Regions from separate parts of the Homo sapiens genome. Here region 1 is linked to region 2. Evidence: fine-mapped expression QTL. A gene starts in region 2. The other region holds a variant in brackets. All regions are shown on one strand. Distances are between the middles of the regions.

Region 1 (8,000 bases), 530 kb before region 2:
TTGACAAAATATTTATGAAGGATATAGAGCAGTGATTAAAAGCTTGGTCTCTGGGGTTAGACTGCCTTGGTTCATATTCCAGTACCACCACTTACTGTTATAAAACTTTGTTACATAAGATGTTACTTCTCTGTGCCCCAGTTTCCTCATCTGTGTAATGAGAATAATAATAGTATCTATTTTAATGGGCTGTAGCATCTGGTTAACAAATAAATAAATGTAAAGTGCTTAGGACAGTGCATGGTACATTACAAGTACCAGATGAATGTTGGCTATTATTTATTGAATATGATACGATAAATAATTAATGAGTAAAATTTTTGAGTGCCTATTATGTTGTAGGCACATCATGAAACTCTAAGGGTATAGTGCTGAATATTAGGTTTTGCTTACTTGAAGCCTATATCCTAAGAGGAATAGAAAAATAATTATGCAAAAACTTAGTACAACTTGGAACAGAGATACTAAGAAGTGTAGAATGCTATAAACATTTATAATAGGGATAACCAGGGACCCAAAATCTGAAAAGTGGGATGTGAAGGAAGGCCTGCCTTGGAAAGTTATGAGATTTTGAGGAATAAGAATTAAGTGTCAAGGGAGAGGAAAGTATTCCAGGCAAGGGGAACATCAGAGTATGCTCATGAACGCAGACAGGGAAAGACTGATAGGAGAAGCTAGATCAAGTTATATACAGCCATGGAAGGCCATGCAAAGATCTTGTATTTTATTCTGGAAGCAACTGGAAAACTTGGTGGAGCTCTTTCAAAGGAGTGGCCCAGCCAAATTTGGATTTTAAAAAGATCCCTCTGGCTGCAATTTGGAGAATGAACTTGAAGGCAAGAATGAAATCTAGAGACTAGAAATATGAGGTTAGCTAAATAGTATTCAAGAGCCCCATATCTACAGGAAGACATACACGAGTTTGATATCTGGCTTTGCCATTTGAGTTACTCAATTTCTCTAAGCCTTAATTTCCTCATCTCTAAAATGGGGGTAAGCATATCTTGTGGGATAGTTATGAAGATTAAATGAGGTAAACCATACCAAAACACATAAAACATTACCTAGTAACCTAGTTAATTATCCATCCTAGTTGCTGGTAGCATTTGTTATGATCTAAATGTGTCCCCCCAAAATTCCTGTGTTGAAACCTACTGGTTTCAACACAGGAATTTTTTGCGTTCCTATTTCTCCACATCCTCTCCAGCATGTGTTGTTTCCTGATTTTTAATGATCACCATTCTAACTGGCGTGAGATGGTATCTCATTGTGGTTTTGATTTGCATTCTCTGATGACCAGGGATGATGAGCATTTATTCATGTCTGTTGGCTGCATCAATGTCTTCTTTTGAGAAATGTCTGTTCATATCCTTTGCCCACTTTTTGATGGAGTTGTTTTTTTCTTGTAAATTTGTTTAAGTTCTTTGTAGATTCCGGATATTAGCCCTTTGTCAGATGGGTAGAGTGCAAAGATTTTCTCCCAATCTGTAGGTTGCCTGTTCACTCTGATGATAGTTTCTTTTGCTGTGCAGAAGCTCTTTAGTTTAATTAGATCCCATTTGTCTATTTTGGCATTTGTTGCCATTGCTTTTGGTGTTTTAGTCATGAAGTCTTTGCCCATGCCTATGTCCTGAATGCCTAGGTTTTCTTCTAGGGTTTTTATGGTGTTAGATCTTACATTTAAGTCTTTAATCCATCTTGAGTTAATTTTTGTATACGGTATAAGGAAGGGATCCAGTTTCAGCTTTCTACTTATGGCTAGCCAGTTTTTCCAGCACCGTTTATTAAATAGGGAATCATTACCCCATTGCTTGTTTTTGTCAAGTTTGTCAAAGATCAGAGGTTGTAGATATGTGGTGTTATTTCTGAGGACTCTGTTCTGTTCCAGTGGTCTATATCTGCGTTCTGGTACCAGTACCATGTTGTTTTGGTTACTGTAGCCTTGTAGTATAGTTTGAAGTCAGGTAGCATAACGCCTCCAGCTTTGTTCTTTTGGCTTAGGATTGTCTTGGCCATGCGGGCTCTTTTTTGGTTCCATATGAGCTTTAAAGTAGTTTTTTCCAATTCTGTGAAGAAAGTCAGTGGTAGCTTGATGGGAATAGCACTGAATCTATAAATTACCTTGGGCAGTATGGCCATGTTCACGATATTGATTCTTCCTATCCATGAGCGTAGAATGTTCTTCCATTTGTTTGTGTCCTCTTTTATTTCTTTGAGCAGTGGTTTGTAGTTCTCCTTGAAGAGGTCCTTCACATAAACAAGGGGCCATCTTGAAGCAGAGAGTGCAGTTCTCCTCAGACACTGAACCTGCCAATGCCTTGATTTTGTACTTCCCAGCTTCCAGAACTGTGAGAAACAAATTTCTCCTCTTTGAAAATTACCTAATCTCAGATATTTTGTTATAGAAGCAAGAATGGACTAAGATGGCATTATGACTTCTTTATTACAGCAGTCTATGCTGGAGATGATGATAGCTACAACCATGTAATAGCAATGGAGATGAAGAGAGGTAAATGGATTTGAAACATTCATAAGTTAGAACCACATGGCCTCTAAGGTGGTGGAATTTGGTTGATGACCAAAATTCAAGTCACTTCAGCCTTTCAGGTCCAGAAATGTAATTTTGTTAGTGTATTTTGAGTTCATTCAGTTTATACTAGTTCAACTCACAAGAGCCCAGTGGCAAATCAGAGTCCAATGAATTAATAGAGAACAGTAATTTATAAAAAGCTTTTTATGTCTTCTGGTAATCACATGTTTCCCTATGTGGGAGGCCAAATTCTAACCATAAGATGGCTTGGTAAGCATGAAATCAGAGCAGGAGAACTAGTTGGATGGTTTAAATGGCTCCTTTCCTCAAGCCTGATATACTCAGCTCCCTTGCTGAGATAGATTGTATAATAGTTGTTTCTGCTCAAGCATTTCTATCTGCCTAAAATGCCTTTCCCAACTTTGTTCACCTGGCTAGCTCTTCCTTATCTTTTAGGATGCAGCCTAGTGTCATCTCCTCTACAAAGTTTTCTAAATATTCTGAGGTTGGATTAAGCCTCCTTCCTCTAAGATCTCACAACACCATATGCAAACCTCTATTTCCAAATGACCATATTTCATTACAAATATTTCTCTTGGTTTTTCTCATCTATTAGATTCTAACCTTCTTGAGGGTAGAGAATCTATTTTTTTAGTTTTTTGTGCATCAAGCATCTATTACCTAGTAGAAGCTCAGAAAATATTAGTTGAAATGTAGACATGCCCAACATATCAACAGATGGGCTATGCATTACCAAAAAGAAAGGGGCCTTTGCTACTGAACAGTATCAAAGACACAATGTCCAATACTTGTCCTTTGTTCTTTTTTTGCTAGTCTCCAAACAAATCACCTTCTTTTTACTGATTTATTCAGTGTTACCACAGCTAATCAGCTCTATCTTTCTTTTGCATTCATGTGTTGATTAGATTTCTAGGCTGGCTAGTTTTTATATGGGAAACATTTTGCCTCTCAATAGCACTTCTGCAAAATCACTTGCAGATTTGGATATTTAACTCTCACTGAGTACCCACATTCAGGCATCTTGTTGCAAGTCTCTGTGCACCAAGAGTTACTAGAATCCCACGTGGGTTTTTATAGCTGTCATAAGAAAGACACAAGCAAAGTTCAGAGGCTGCAGAGATAGAGTTCAAGGACATGAGGGAAAACGAGATCATGAGAGATTTGGAGGCCTGGTAAAGAAGAATGGGTGGAAGTTTGAGAGGTTGGAAAATGAGGTAAGGCAATGGACAGCATTAAGAAATATACCAAATTAGAAATAGGTCACACCATTCAGTGTTGTTTGGGTAGGACAAATATGAGAGTTCTAGTTGGTTAGAACATTTGATTTGAGTAAGTGGGTTGAGTAGGATAAACTTCCAAAAGTAGTGTGGTCAGGGCCAAATTTTGGAGAGGTTTTTAATGTTAGATTAAGGAATCTGACTTTATTTGGCAGGCAAGAAGGAACCATTGGAAACTGCTCAATGGAAGAATAGCATGCACAAAATGGCTTATAAATCCCTAAATACCATTTTATAGTTGTCTAATTCTTTGCAGTTATAGACCACTTTCTTATGCATTATCTCTTTTAATCCTCATCTACCTTTCGAGAGAGGTATTATTGTCTTTATTTTATAGAGGAAAAGCCTGATGAAGCTCAGGGAATTTTCATGTCTTCTGGTCACTACAGGCTTCACCTCAAATCCCATAACTAGAAAATGTAGAACCTGGAAACTTGAATCTAGGCTTTCTGACTCCAAGTTCAGTGCTCTTGATATATACAATACAATCTTTAAGAAGATGAGCTATTGCTCTGGTAGCAGAATTTTATAAAAATTATAAGAGTGCAGAGAATAAGCACTTGGTAAATTATTAACATCAGAGAATATCATTTGTAGAAAAAGATAGGAGCTTAAGAAGTAAGGAGGCCTCAAATTAAGATGTTATCAGAGGGAACACAAGGGTTATTTATCCCTCAATTTTATCTTTATTTGTAGAATGAAAATGGTCGAAGGAATTTCAAGAGTCAGTGAAGAGTAGAAGCAAATGTGTTTGCTGTTGAGAGTGAAGGTGCTGGGTGAGGAGGAGAAGAGGACTAAGAAATTTCCAACCTCTTGAAACACTACTAGCTAAAATCTCTTTCATCTGCCTAGAGGAGAGTGTCTCTGCCTGATGCTATCCTGAGTGATGTCTCAGATCACACACGACCTTGGATACATCACTTTATGAAAATCGCATTGTATTTTGTAGTCTAAGTGTTGTAAAGAGCAGAAAACCTGTTATATACAGTCTTTACCAGTTGACATGCGCTTTCAAGTTTACTGATTTTCTTCTGCAAACAAAGCCATT[A/G]AAGTTATCTCCATTTTTACAAATGAGATTATTGAGGCTCATGAAGGTGACATGACTTGCTTTAGAATCTGGAATGTCTACACTGTGCTATCAATATGGTAGCTACTAGTCACATGTGGCTACTGAGTACTTAAACTGTGGCTAGTCTCTGGTCAGATGTGCTGTAAGTGTAACATACATGCTGAATTTCAAAGTCTTTGTATGAAAAAATGATGTAAATTGCTCAATAAATGCATATATTTGATTACATGTTAACTATTTTGCATATATTAAGTAAAATATGTTAATAAAATTAATTACACCTGTTTCTTTTTATGTGTTTACTAGAAAATTTTAAATTACCTGTAGAGTGTTTATTATATTTCTATTGGGAAGCACTATTCTAGGTCATAAGTCTATAGCCAGGACGTGAACACTCAAAGGCCAGCATTCATTCCACCATAATTGCTTGTCTTAAAAGAGGTGGTAATAAAAATAATGATTTTTTGCTAATATTCAGTAACTTTCCAGAATCACAGACTTAGTGGATTCAGACTGAGGCAGTTTGCCTCCAGTGTGATCAGGAATGCCTTAGGGGCTATCTCAGTTGGGTGAGTCTCAAGGAGACATTTGGATTGGCTTAACTTTATTTTTGACCCACCATAAGTCAGGCAGTGTGTGAGAGACTATGTATAATATTTAATTAATCTTTGCCACACCCCCAGTAAATAGTTATTATCCCTGTTTTATAGATGAGTAAACTGAGGCTCAGAGAGGTTACATAATCTGCCCAAAGTTACAACACTAAGTATATATTAGATCGTGGTTTCTAATCCAGCCTGAATTCAAAGTTGATATTCATCACTATACCAGTCTATAGAAGAGGTGCATCTGAATCTCCTGGGGGTGATTCCCAGGCTAAACCCCAGATGTATAAAGCAGTCTTGGCAGACTGAGTTCTGGGAATTTGTTCTTTTTAGAATTGCTTCAGGTGATTTCCATCCTCAGCCAGGTTTGGCAATAACCACAATGAGTCCTTCAACATTTTTTTTCCTGGGAGTCCCACCTCCTCAATCTTGCCTAAGAGCTGATAAATTATTTTATTTTATTTTATTCTTTTAGAGACTGGATCTCACTCTGTCACCCAGGCTGGAGCACAATGGCGTGATCACGGCTCACTGCAGCCTCGAACTCCTAGGCCAAGTGATCCTCCTACATCAGCCTCCAAAGTAGCTGGGACTACAGGTGCTTACCGCCATGCCTGGCTGATTTTTAAATTTTCTGTAGAGATGAGGGTCTTGCTGTGTTGCTCAGGCCGGTCTCGAACTCCTGGGCTCAAGTGAGCCTGCCACCTTGGCCTCCCACAGTATTGGGATTACAGGTGTGAGGCACTGCACTAGGCCTGACTTAAAAAAATAATAATAAAGAAAAGAAATTTAAAAAAAAAAACAGTTTTTCTTTGAGGCACCCTTCAGTGGGACTGACCATTCATCCCAACAAGATCCCTGCTTCTCTCAAATCTTATCATCTACACCAAAATGTGGGGCCTGACAGTTTAATTAAGAAGGGATAAGCATAGATTTCAGAGATAAAACAGCCCTTCCTCCTAAAGACTTTCTTAGTAAGCATCTAAGCAGTCTAGGGCTGTGTCTGAAGTGTGCGGGGTAGGGTTTGGTGCAGCAGAGGTGGTGAGGGATGGAGGAAGGAACACTTTAGTAGGAGACTCACAGGCTCTTGAGGTGATTTATGGGGTTCTGGATGATTCAGTAAGAACCCCTGGATGTGAATGAAGACACTGAACAAAGAAAGCCAAGCAACTCTTTTTGGGTTGGGGTTTTCTGTGTGTGTTAGGAAAGATTAACAGTTATGATTTTTGCAGCCTCTGTGGGTAGACAAACAGTTGCTTTATGTGACAGATTCAGAACTTCCAATGAAATATAAAATTAGGCCTCAGGTTTCATGGCAACCCAACTCCACACAGTAGCAAACAAGAATTGTTTGAGAATGAGAGAAAGAAGCCAACACTGTGTATGTCACAGCTAGCTCACTTTCCTTTGGCCAATTTCTCCTAATTTAGCAGTACTTCCGTTCCGGCCCTAATTTCCCCTGGTTTGTAAACTACGTCACTTAACTGAACTCAGCTCCAGACTTTAGAAAAACAAAATTTTGTATTTCAGCTATGGTTTTCTTGGCATTTCTCCCTCTGAAGACTCTTACTGAATTCTGATTTTTCCTTTTTACCCTTGAAAGATTGTAGCTATCAGCTGTGCTTACTTTTTCCCTGTTGGTTCCTTTCTAATGCAGTGTCTAATGCAGTATAATGCAATGTCTGTTTAAATGTGATTAAAGATTTCAGTGTTTGGTTTAGACCAATATTTACCAGTGAAATCCTGCCAACATAAATGTGCAGGCTAGGTAGAAAATATTGGCTTAAATCAATCTCCCCCTGAACACACACATACAGACAGGACTGTAAATGTTTTGCATGTCACTTCTGATATTTTGGCCTCTTGTTGCCAGCTTCACACATATAACAACTAGACACAGATTCTGCAAAGTCTTAAAACTGGGATAATCTAGATTATAGATGCCTAAGGCAATTTTTAAAGGTTGTTTTCTCATTAGTGAAGGTTTGATGTTTTTGTTTTTTGTTTTGCTGGTTCTTCTGGCATTTACCATATAATATCATGTTATCTAGTTTGGAAGATTTCCTTGAATTATGTGAATTTGTATTATTTGAAATAGTAGTAAACAAGGGAATATTAATCTTTTAATGAAGAGATTACACTACAAAGTTCGTTGCAGAAACATACAGCAGACATTTTGAGATTGTTGAATCAGCCTTGCTGGGTGATTGCTTTAATTTAGCAATCATTTACTAAATTGAATTTACTCACTGATTGAACTTATTGAATGAATGAATTACTGCTACACTCTGACTGGATTTCAAATAGTTGTAGTTTGGATTAGAAATTATTTTTCTGAAACTGAATAGGCTAGGTAGCCAGCAGACAGAAGGCTCTAGCTGGTACCCAGCAGACACAGCCTCAGAAGAACACAGGAGGGTGGAGAGTGAGTGAGGTTTACGTGGCCAAGGCTCAGAACCAAGCCCTCAGTGAAAACTCTGAATTCCACAGTTCCCATA
Region 2 (11,674 bases):
GCCTGTAATCCCAGCACTTTGGGAGGCCGAGGCGGGTGGATCACGAGGTCAGGAGATCGAGACCATCCTGGCTAACAAGGTGAAACCCCGTCTCTACTAAAAATACAAAAAATTAGCCGGGCGCGGTGGCGGGCGCCTGTAGTCCCAGCTACTCGGGAGGCTGAGGCAGGAGAATGGCGTGAACCCGGGAAGCGGAGCTTGCAGTGAGCCGAGATTGCGCCACTGCAGTCCGCAGTCCGACCTGGGCGACAGAGCGAGACTCCGTCTCAAAAAAAAAAAAAAAAAAAAAAAAAAAAAAAGACTAGCCTGGCCAACATGGTGAAACCCCATCTCTACTAAAAAAAATACAAAAATTAGCCAGGTATGGTGTTACACACCTGTAATCCCAGCTACTTGGGAGGCTGAGGCAGAAGAATTGCTTGAACCCGAGAGGCAGAGGTTGGAGTGAGCCGAGATGCACCACTGCACTCCAGCCTGGGTGACAGAGCGAAACTCCATCTCAAAAAATAAATAAATAAATAAATAAATTTTTAAACATTTTTAAAATTAAAAAATAAAAATAATGCAAGGGGCATCCCAAGGAGGACTGAGAATGGTGGCAAGAGGGAAATGGACTGCTTAGTGACCTCTAGGCTGGAGGAACAGTAGAGCAATAGAGCAGTGGATGTCTTCCAACTCTCTATTCAACAGCAGATTACCCAGGCCCAGAGTCTCCCGACTCCTAACCTAGTAGTAGGAAATGATCTAGGTAGGCTCATTCCTTGTCTGCATCTAACTGGGGTCCATTTGACAATACTAGGTGGCCTCAGAGCACTGGCACCAGGAATCCTGCCACAAGTTCCAGGTCTAAGAATGCTCCTTATTTCTGCAAGGCTGAAAGTCACTTAGAGACACTTCTCTAACCTAGAGGCACAACAGGGCCTGGCCTGGGGAGGCTTCTTCTTCCCCTTCAGGTGGCACCAGCAGCGTTCAGTGGGAGCCCCGGAAGCACCAGACAAACCAGGCAGACTAACAGCACCTCAAAGCCTCTAGAAATTAAATTGTCATTGAAACCACTGCCCACAAAAGTAGGCCAGGATCTGTGTGTTACCCTAAACAGAGTGATTATCTGTTAAAATACAAGATTTAAATAGAAACCCAGAGCCTTCTAACACAATAGCTAAAATGTCCAAAATATGACCACAACTTGAATGAGAAAAGACAATCAAGTGACACCAACAATTAAGTGAATCAGATGTTGGAATTATCTGACAAAGATTACAAAGCATTTATTCTAAAAATGTTGGCCGGGCGCAGTGGCTCACACCTGTAATCCCAGCACTTTGGGAGGCCGAGGCAGGTGGATCACGAGGTCAGAAGATCGAGACCATCCTGGCTAACATGGTGAAACCCCGTCTCTACTAAAAAATACAAAAAAATTAGCCAGGCGTGGTGGCGGGCACCTGTAATCCCAGCCACTCAGAAGGCTGAGGCCAGAGAATGGCGTGAACCTGGGAGGTGGAGCTTGCAGTGAGTGGAAATAGTGCCACTGCATTCCAGCCTAGGCAACAGAGCGAGACTCCATCTCAAAAAAAAAAAAAAATGTTTCAGGCTAGACACGGTGGCTCAAGCCTGTAATCCCAGCACTTTGGGAGGCTGAGGCAGGCAGATCATGAGGTCAGGAGATCGGGACCATCCTAGCCAAAATGGTGAAACCGCTTCTCCACTAAAAATACAAAAAATTACCTGGGCATGGTGGCACGCACCTATAGTCCCAGGTACTCAGGAAGCTAAGGCAGGAGAATCGCTTGAACTCAGGAGGCAGAGTTTGCAGAGAGCCAAGATCATGCCACTGCACTCCAGCCTGGGTGACAGAGTGAGACTCTGTCTCAAAAAAAAAAAAAAAAAAAAAGTTTCAGCAAGCAAATACAAATTCTCTAGAAACTAATGAAAAAATAGAATGTCTCAGCAAATAAGCATAAGCTGCAAAAAGAACCAAATGGAAATTATTGAGTTGAAAAATATAGTAATCAAAATAAAATACTAGATGGGCTCTGTAGTAGAGAAGACAGAGGACAGAATCAGCGAACTTGAAAACAGACCAATGAATGTTTTCTATTTGAACAAAGAGAAAATACCAGAAAAAAAAATGATGAACCAAGCCTCGGGGTCTTGTAGGACAACAACAAAAGATCCAACTTTCATATCATCAGAGTCACAGAAGCAGATAAGAAAGAGAGTGGGGCTGAAACACTTTTGTGTTTGAAGAAATAATGCCTAAGAATCTCCCAACTTGGTGAAAGACAAACCTACATTTTAAAAACTTCATCAAATCCCAAACAGAGCAAACCAAAAGAAATTCATGCCAAAACACATCATAATCAAACTTCCAAAAAATGAAGATATAGAAAATATTCTTGAAACTCTCCAGAGAGAAATGACGCATTGTGTATAAGGGAACGTCAATTCAAACAACAACAAATTTCTCATTGAAACCAGGGAGGCCTGAAATGAAGTGACATAACATTTTTCAAGTGCTGGAAGAAAAAGAAACTGTCAACTATAAATTCCTTCCACATATGCATCTTCTATATCATATTTGATGGTTGAAACACCACATTTCAAAAGACCAATGGATTAAAACTGGCAAAATGAATGTATGGGGTAAGAACATAGTCACAGGTGGGTTTCCCTGGCAAGCTAATTCTGAAATGAAGTTCAAAGCCCTATTTTCTTGGGAACCGCCTTGTTATCCACACCTGAGGAAGGATGGGGAAGGAAACAGAAAGGACCAAAGAGAGAAGTAGAGCTGCAATGCAAGCCCTCAGGGAGCTCCAGAGCTAGAAAGATCCTTCAGAGTTTTCCAGAGTTGTGCTGCAATGGCCCAACCTTTATACTCCCACATGGATCAGCCATTGGATGTGAGCTGCGCTGGAAAGGGGTGTGACCTTGGACAAGGGAGCTTTCTACAGCTCAGGCAATCCCTGAAGAGTCTGACTATTGAAGGCCATCTGTTGACCACACTCCCAGAAGCTGGGGCAACAAGTCCCTCCTTGAAGAACGATTTGGCACATCACAGTGTCCACTGTATTACCACATGGTGGCTACAATAGCCAGTGCCTGAAGGAACTCATTTGTTTTGTGGTCAGCAACATCCTAAACCTTGTCCAAACTATGCTGTTTGAAGGTTTTTGGAAATAGAAATGGGTGAAATTGTATGACATGATAATAAATTACTAACCACCAAATCTTTCTAACTGAAGACCTCTTCATATACCTCTTGCTCCTTAGCCAAATTAAGTCAAGTAAGATATTAGGAGTAACCTAGAACTCTTTATTTCTTCACAATTTTAAATATTGCATTTGTAAACCAAAATGGAATTATTATTTCTGTGTCCAGTATCTTTATCAAACAAGCCTTTATTTGTACATACACAGTAACTATTACTGTTAAATACTTAAATACCTGTCTCTAGACAGGCAAAGGACTCCAAGATCAGAAAACCATGTATGATTGATTTCTTATTCCTCAAATCAAAAAACAGTCCTATTTTGAAAGCAAACAGTATGTCTAACAGGTTACTCTCTAGAGAAATTTAAGACAATTCATTTTTGCAAAATATGTCAAGCCATAAAGAAACTGAAAAGCAAATCAGCTGATAAAAATACAAGTAGACACACTGCAACATTGTTTAGCTCCCAACTGTAACAAGAAAAATAGAAAGATGATAGATATATAGATAAACAGCCTCAATGCATCGATCATGCCATCTCATAAATTCCAGTCCATTTAACAATCTTACTTATTTTTTGTAAATTAACAAAATTGGCACGTTGTTGTTTAGAAAATGAAAAAGAATAGAAACAGCCAGCAAACATATTACAGTCAAGTCCTACAAGTATTGATTTGAAGAGCTGAAGAGACCAATGCTATATTTATTGACATTAAGGGGATTTCTCTCTTGGGATACCAAGAAATGAGGTATCCTGAGAGAGAAGAAGCTCAACTTCCTTTACCTGCAGTGAAATCATTGGCCTTATCTATCTTCTTGTGAATTCATGTACAGATAAATTCTAGACCCCTACCTACACTTCAGGTTGTAGGTAAAAACACTGAAATCTCCAAATTTGTTTCGTTTTTATGAATATAATTGGTATAATAACAGCTTTTGGCAAAAGGAAACGGAGGGGGAGTATGATCTACTAATAAAAATAGTATCTGGACATTTATTACTTTTTTTATGCTTAATGTGCCTTTCATTCTTATAACTTAGCCAAGAGTTTTCCAGCAGCTGGAAATCTTTGAAATTAAACGATGCATGTGATTCAAAGAACAGTTATATCTCAGATCTAAGATGCAGAATGCATAGAGTTACCATTTCTGTTCAGTGGCATCATATAATTATGATGTAAACCTAATGTAAGTACAATGTAATTTTAGGTGACCGTCTCAAAGTCTTGCTAAAAATTATCCCAGGCACGTGTGTGACACACACAGACACACACACACACATATATAACTACTGTAATTAAGAGCGATTCTTCTGTGCGCTCCTCCTTATACACGCTTTAAAGCTGTTGGCCATAGTGGGTTCCGATTTGTGTTTGAAGTACCGCACAAGGAAGGTGGCCTGTGAAAAACGGGAAGGAAGGAGGCAAAACAGGAAGATGGAAGAAGAGAGTAGGCATGAAGGAAAGTGACAGGAGAAAGGAGGAGAGCCTCTTCCTTCCCCAACACACTCTTGTAGCTAGAAAGGTCCAAGCCCCCTCACCAAACACCAGACAAATCTTCCCAAAAGTTCCTGGCAGAGCCTTGGTGATGCCGAGGCTTGAGTGCGCCCCTCCTTGGTGCCCCAGCCACCAGGGCACGCAGGAGCATCCTGGAGCCTCAGCCCAGCAAACTCTTGGGTAGTTCAGGTTCCCTTCCGCGCCCGCTGCCTGCAGTCAATCACTGGGCACCGCGCGCCCATCCGTCACCTACTCCAGGGCTTCCAAGCCCTGAATCCTTCTGCCTCTCTCCATTCTCCCTTAGCCTCTCTCCATCCTCTCCTCCCCAGTGACTTGTCAAGAGGTCCAAGGGCGGAAGCCGAAGCAGAGAAGATGAGGGCGAAAGGCTAGGGGCCGGTTGGCGGATTTCCTACAAGGGGCGACAATGACGCCGTCAAGACGACCATCCAGGCCCGGCGGCCCCATTCCCTCTTTGCCCCACATCAGCCCCACAGCACCCTACACTCTCCATTGAGGCTTCAGTGTGTGATGAAGTAAGAGAATGAGGAAAAATAAACCCGCAGCCTCCTAGGCAGCCCTTACCTCAGGCTGCCCTCGCAGAAGCCGCCCTCCTCCTGCCCGAGGCGCCTCTGCTGCACCGCCGCGGCCGCAGCGCTCTGGACGCCGGGGCTCCGCCCGGCGCGGGTAGACCATGCGCTGCGAGTGAGCCTTCCGCGCTCCCGGGGGTGGGGGACGAAAGTCTGCCCGGAGGGCGCTCGCGTGCAGCCCGGCCCGCGACGAAGAGCCTGCAGCCGCTGAGGCGAGGCCAGGAGCCCCGGGAAGGGGCGCGCGGGCCGGGGGCGCGCGCGCGGACGGGCCAGCGGGCTAGCCTGGGGAACCCGCGCCAGGGAGACACAGGCGCTGGCGACGCGCCCCTCAGCTCTTCTCTCGTCCTCTGGCCCTTTAAACCCCCTCTCCCTACTGTCCACCCCCGCCCCCCGGAAGAGAGACAGCTCGCCGGTGCCACTTGGTCTGCCGCGCTGCGCTCCTCAGCCGGGTGCGGGGAATAACAATGTGACCGTATCGCACGGACGAGATGCTGTGTAGTAGGTTGTAACTGCTGAGGCCACCACCTGTCAATTCTAGGGTGCAAAGCACGCCGTCCCCAGTCGTCTGGCCTCTCCCTGATTGCCCTCCCAGGTTATTTTTTCCCCCACCTACCTCACAGACCTCCTGCAATATTCCGCGGGCACGGTACCAGGGGAGTTTTGCAAAATAACCCTCTCTCCCAGCCGGGAGCTCACTGCATCTCCCTTACCACCAGAGCTGAAGGATTACGCACAGCCCTGCGTGCCTATCCAAAGCCAGAGACCGAAAATCCTGGTTTGAACCCCACACTCGCCGGCCCCCCAGCCCCCATTCATAATCCCAGCGGCCGTCTGCCACTACACACCCTCCCCCGGCCGCCCGCGCTCTTTCCCATTCGCCGTCCCTGGAACGTGTCAGTCACTCGCTGTGCATCTGCCATGAATACAAGACGAAGAGCTCTGCAGCTACTGGCTGCACAAAGAGGGACTGGGGCGCAGGGGACGCAGACCCCCGGGTTGGGGGAGGCGAGAGAGCCAGCGGGGCACATTACGTGGAAGGAGCCAGTGGGACCGTGGGAGTCCTCTGGTCTCCTGTTGCACAAAGGAGCGCCAGAGTGAATACGCGCAGTGCTCCTGAACCAACAGGTCAGATCACCTCCCAAGAGGTGCTCCACCAAGACACCCCTGAAGGTGAGTCCCACAACTTGGGAATTCGTGTGATGGAGCAACAGGCACTCAGTAACCTGACTGAGCCTGCTTTAAAAATGCAACAGGATGGAGAGAGAGCGAGAGCGAGAGCGAGAGAGAGAGAGAGAGAGAGAGAGAGAGAGTGTGTGTGTGTGTGTGTGTAGAGTGGGAGAGGTATGCTGGAAAGCACAAGTTTCCTTTTCCCCGGTTGTCCAGCCCTTTCAGTCAGAGAAAAAAAGAAGGAAGCTGGCAAGGAAAAGAGGAGGAAGATAGGCATGAAGTAACTTTGCCTATCCAACTACTACAGTAGCTAGAGACCAAAATGACTTTAATAGACAACATTCGCCTGTTTCTCGATTTATTCCAATAAACATCATGCACACCTACTGTGCACTGAGCACTTTGCAGAAGCTAAGGATGCAGAGTCGATTAGGACATAGTCTCTGCACCCAAGGAGCTCACTGCCTAATAGGAGAACCAACTATGAAAGCCCGAGACAAACAACACAAGTATTTCACAACAGAAGCACATGCCAATTGCATAAGTGGAAGCAATTTTTTCTATGTAAGAGAAGGAACAGGTCAGGGAATTTAAATCCCATCTGAACTGTGTATTAAAGGACAAATAGGGACCTCCCAAAGAAGGGCAATAACCTAATAACCTACTATTCACCCATTCACCCAAAATAGCTTTACATGCCTGTACATTGAAAGGCATGTCTAAGAGCTTATCAGTGTAGGAACTTAATGAACTTTCCCCTTCATGGTTTTGGAGGAAACATATTCAAACACTAGCGTTTGGAGTATAAAACACCTATTTCCCCACATCTGAGATGCTACCAAGTGTTCGCTGGTTATTCTGCCTTTTTGGACCTGTTGCTTACACTATACCATCTACCTCATCCATAACCTTGAAATTGAGCCCAAAGCCAAAATTAATAATAGTGAGGCAATAAGCACCTGAAAGGAAGCCAACAAAATCCGCAATGTAGTCATTGTTCTCACAGTTTTCATCTGTAAAATGATGATAATGGAATCTCTTTTTCTGAACTACAGTTAGGATTAGTTAGATGTATTAAATATAAGGCAACCATTGCCTAAAGAGAGTGTAAGGAATCTAAATTGTAGTTCAATCTAGGGGAAAAAAAGAACCAATTTGAGCATCATGCTGCCCCTTTTTGAATATGAGAAATTTGAAAGGTATTAATAATTACTAAGCCTCCCAAGGTTATTACATCATCTTCAGAAAAATGTGTCCAAAGAGTTCTTACTGCAAAAAGAATTATATACGGATTCCAGTAGAAAATGATGTCAGCTTTTTAAGCATCTTTCTCATCTCTTTCTAAAAATTACATAAACTAACAAAGAGAATGGAAAAAAACTGTCAAACACCATTTTCAACAAATTTATATAGATTTTACCTACAAACCCCAAAGCGCTTCTAAAGGTTACCAAAAGCAGCTGAGTTTGGGCAGAAGTCATATGGAAAAGGCCCAGGGAGAGGCAATGGGAACCAGCACTAGAAGTATCAGAAAGTGCCAGCAAAAGTATGTTTTCTGGGAAATGAGAGGTGTGTCGTAAAATGCAAAGCTGTCTCTCAAAAACTGGAGCAGAAGCAGAAGGAAGAAGGCAAAAGAGATACATACATACAGATGACAAAAGGAGAACAGGGAGTTCCCAGAAACATGGTAGGAGCAGATCTCAGGGTCAGCAAAACTTTAGTGCTTGAAGATGGTCAAATCACTATGAAATGTAAAAGTCCTGTTCCTTCTTTTTAAGAACTGGGGAGCAGAGAACTACTGGAAAAGGATCTTCTGGACATAATTCCCTTCAGAGTCTCAGAGGAAGTGAGTATACAAAGATGCCATAACTACTAAAAGCAGTCTGTTTGTGAGGCAACAGTAAAAGTGAATCCATAATCTATTGCTGCATAACAAGCCACCCGAAACAATGGTTTAAAAAGCTACCAGTGATTTGCCTACAATTTAGTGAGATGGAAAATTGGGATGGGCTCAGCTGTGTGGGCTCAATGGCTAATCTCTGCCCCATGCGGTATCAGCAGGTCTTACTCACAAATCTGGGCCTCTGGAAGGGATGGCTTGGACACCTAGGGCCTTTTCCCAGGAAGCTAGTCAGGCTTTTTCACATGGAGGTAGACATGTTCCCAGTAGCAAGAGAAATGGCAGCCTAGTGTTCATGCTGTAGTGTTCACACACTTTCAAGTTTCAAGCTTCTGTATGTGTTGTGTTTGTTAATGTCCCGTTGGCTAAAGCAAGTCATGTAGCTAAGTCCAGAGTCAATGTGGGAGTATTTTATGGGCATGGGTAGAGGGAGGTGTCAATTATTGGGGATCATTAAGTGGGAGCTATTTGTTTTGAGAACAGGAAAGCCACTTTGCAACCTCCACTTCAGGAACTTTCTCTAAGGAATTTGACCAGAAAAATAATTCATTCAATAGTGAGCAGTGATAAAGAAGAAACTGGCATAACACAGATACAGACATACTATTTTTAAAATTCAGAAAATTAGCATCAAAACTTTTTAATAGATGAGAGGAAAAAGTGTTGTCACAGAGACAATTAAAATTGTGACTATAAATTTCGAAATGCAAGAAAAAAACTAATAATACTTTAGCATAGTATTTACTGTTGCCAGGCAATATTCTTACCACTTTGTAGAGATATGAACTCAACTGATTCTCAACACAACTCTGTAAATTAGATATTGTTATTATTATTACCATTATATAGATTTAAAGACCTAAGGGACAAGTTAAGTAACACTCAAGATCACACAGTTAGAGGAAGACCCCGTATTTAAACACAGTTAATCTTGTTCTAGAGTCTTTGCTCTTATTCATAAGCAGCATAGTTTCTCTAAATTAAGCATATTTGTTGATATGTTAAGAAATAAACATCATCTATTAAGGAAAACCAAAAGGCACAAATGAAGAAACTCAAGAGAGAGATGAGGAGGATGAAATTAGTTGATTTTTTTAGCAGAAAGAAGAAGAAAAGCAAACCATGACAGAAATGAAGACAATATTGGAAGAAATACAAAAAAGGACTAAGTATTGCAGATAAGTAAGACATAGCAAATAAAAGTATTTGTGTGAAACTGATAATGATAGATGAAATACAACACACATATAATTGGAGTCTCTAAAGAAGAATGGGTGCAGCACACCAGCATGGCACATGTATACATATGTAACTAACCTGCACATGTTGCACATGTACCCTAAAACTTAAAGTATAATAATAATTTTAAAACAAAAAAAAAATCACCCAGAAAAAAAAAGAAGAAAACCTTATCAGTGGAACAGAGCAAATGTTTAAGCAAAATTTTTAAAAAACTTTCTTGAAACTGATAAAAAAAAGACTTCAATCTACATGTTCAAAATAAATACCATGTAGTAGAAAAAAATGATTCATGATGGTTGAACAAAGAAATATACTAACAAATTATTGAGTTTTATATATATGTAAGGAACCTTTGAAGCAGAAAAGAAAAAAAAATCAATTCTTGTAGAAAGAAAAAGAAATCAACCTACCCTCAGTCTTCTTGAAAGCAACATTCAAAGCCTAATGACAATGGGCTTTTGTTCCAATGAGAATGGAAACAAAACTTATTATATTCTCATGAAAAAAAATAATGATCTAAGGATTTTATATCTGGCTAGTTATTCATCATATATAAATGTCATATTTTTAAACATTAAAACTCAAAGAATATTCCTCCCATAAGGGGATATACTAGAATAAAAAAGGGAAAACTTTCTCAAAATGACTGGTGGTGAACACCAAATATATTTTTACTGTAAAACTAATACTACAAAAAATGTTTGAATGTTATAGGTTTTGAAAATATAGAAATGACACAAATCACAAATGTTAGGAAGGGAAAGAAAAAAGATGGTGGTAATTAGAATAAGTTCATTGACTGACTCACCTGTAACTGTTGAGGTTGAAAATGTCATTTAAAGCTGACATACAAGTAGTAGAGTAAGCACGCATAACATAAAAAGATAAACACTAAGAAATGTAATTTTTAAACAAAATATGACAGCTGATAAAATGCAGTATAGGAAAAAGAAGAGGATACATACCAATTTATCATTGCTCATAACTGTTATATCCAAAACAATAGAGAATATGAGTATATAAAGATGGAATTATAAAGGTAGCAGCTGGAGAGCAAATTTGCACCTTAGTGCACACCTTGTTAAATGTCAGAGGAACCATAAACTCATGCGCATGTGTATAATCACACACGTATCCATGTATATATCAAAGAATTGTGACAAATATTTTTCAATCAATACACATTTTAAGCTATTTTTTAAAAGCATTTTCAAATTGCATTAAAACCAAAACTCCATGCTATATATAAGTACACATTGGAAAAAAAAGGTTCAGATGGTTGAAAATTAAAGGAAGAGCAGAGTTTTACCCAAATAATGCCCCTGCACATTCCCCCCACCCAAATACATGGAAAAGGAATAATAATAATATAGCAGTACTTATGACTTTAATTTCAGACAAGTTGGACTCAGGACAAACAAGTATTAAATAAAACAAAGAAAAGCACTTTATGATAGAAAAAGTAAAAATCACAATGAAGATGTGAAATTTATAAATATCTATGAACCAAATACATAGCAGAAATTTGTATATACAAGTTTTATTACAAGAGATATAAAGACATATGGAAAGTAACAGACCAAAAATAGGACAGTTTTACTCATCTCCCTCAGTCAAACTCTACATATATCAGACTTTGTGCCTCAAAAGTAGAGATTACATATTCTTTTTAAGGGCTAATATTATATTCATAAAAATTGCCATTTATTAAACCATAAAGATAAAATGCAAAAATAGGAAATTATGGACAACACTATATGATCACAATTCCATAAAAACAGAAATTAATAGAAAAATCAGAAAAATAAAAATCTTTCCACGTGAAAATTCTAAACAAAAAACTCTCTTAAATAACTTTATGAACAAAAATTGTAGGATTTCTTGAAAATAATGAGGTATGAAAACACTACTGAATAGAATTCCGTGATACAGCTTAAGCTTAATTCATGAATTATGCACCAACTCAAAAAGTTAGAAAAACAACTATTAAATAGAAGAAAACTAAAAAATATTAAACAATTTAGAAGAATTAATAAATGAGTTAAGAAAGGAAGGTGATTAGAGCTAATGT

What was found. PIP is the estimated chance that this variant, and not a neighbour inherited with it, causes the effect. A credible set is the group of variants that fine-mapping cannot tell apart.
Region 1: its variant is the best candidate, but not a certain one, in a credible set for the expression of PDE4B in whole blood (INTERVAL, PIP 0.87).

The regions. Positions count from the first base shown.
Region 1 is chr1:66,315,873-66,323,872 of GRCh38, reverse strand. The region is part of intron 7 of PDE4B (phosphodiesterase 4B); the gene reads right to left. Among named protein-coding and RNA genes, the nearest start is that of SGIP1, 210 kb to the left of the region's middle. The variant A/G (reference allele first, on the strand shown) is at 4,877.
Region 2 is chr1:65,786,864-65,798,537 of GRCh38, reverse strand. PDE4B (phosphodiesterase 4B) reads right to left here and starts at 5,643. Exons shown (of 17, transcript NM_002600.4): 1 at 5,290-5,643.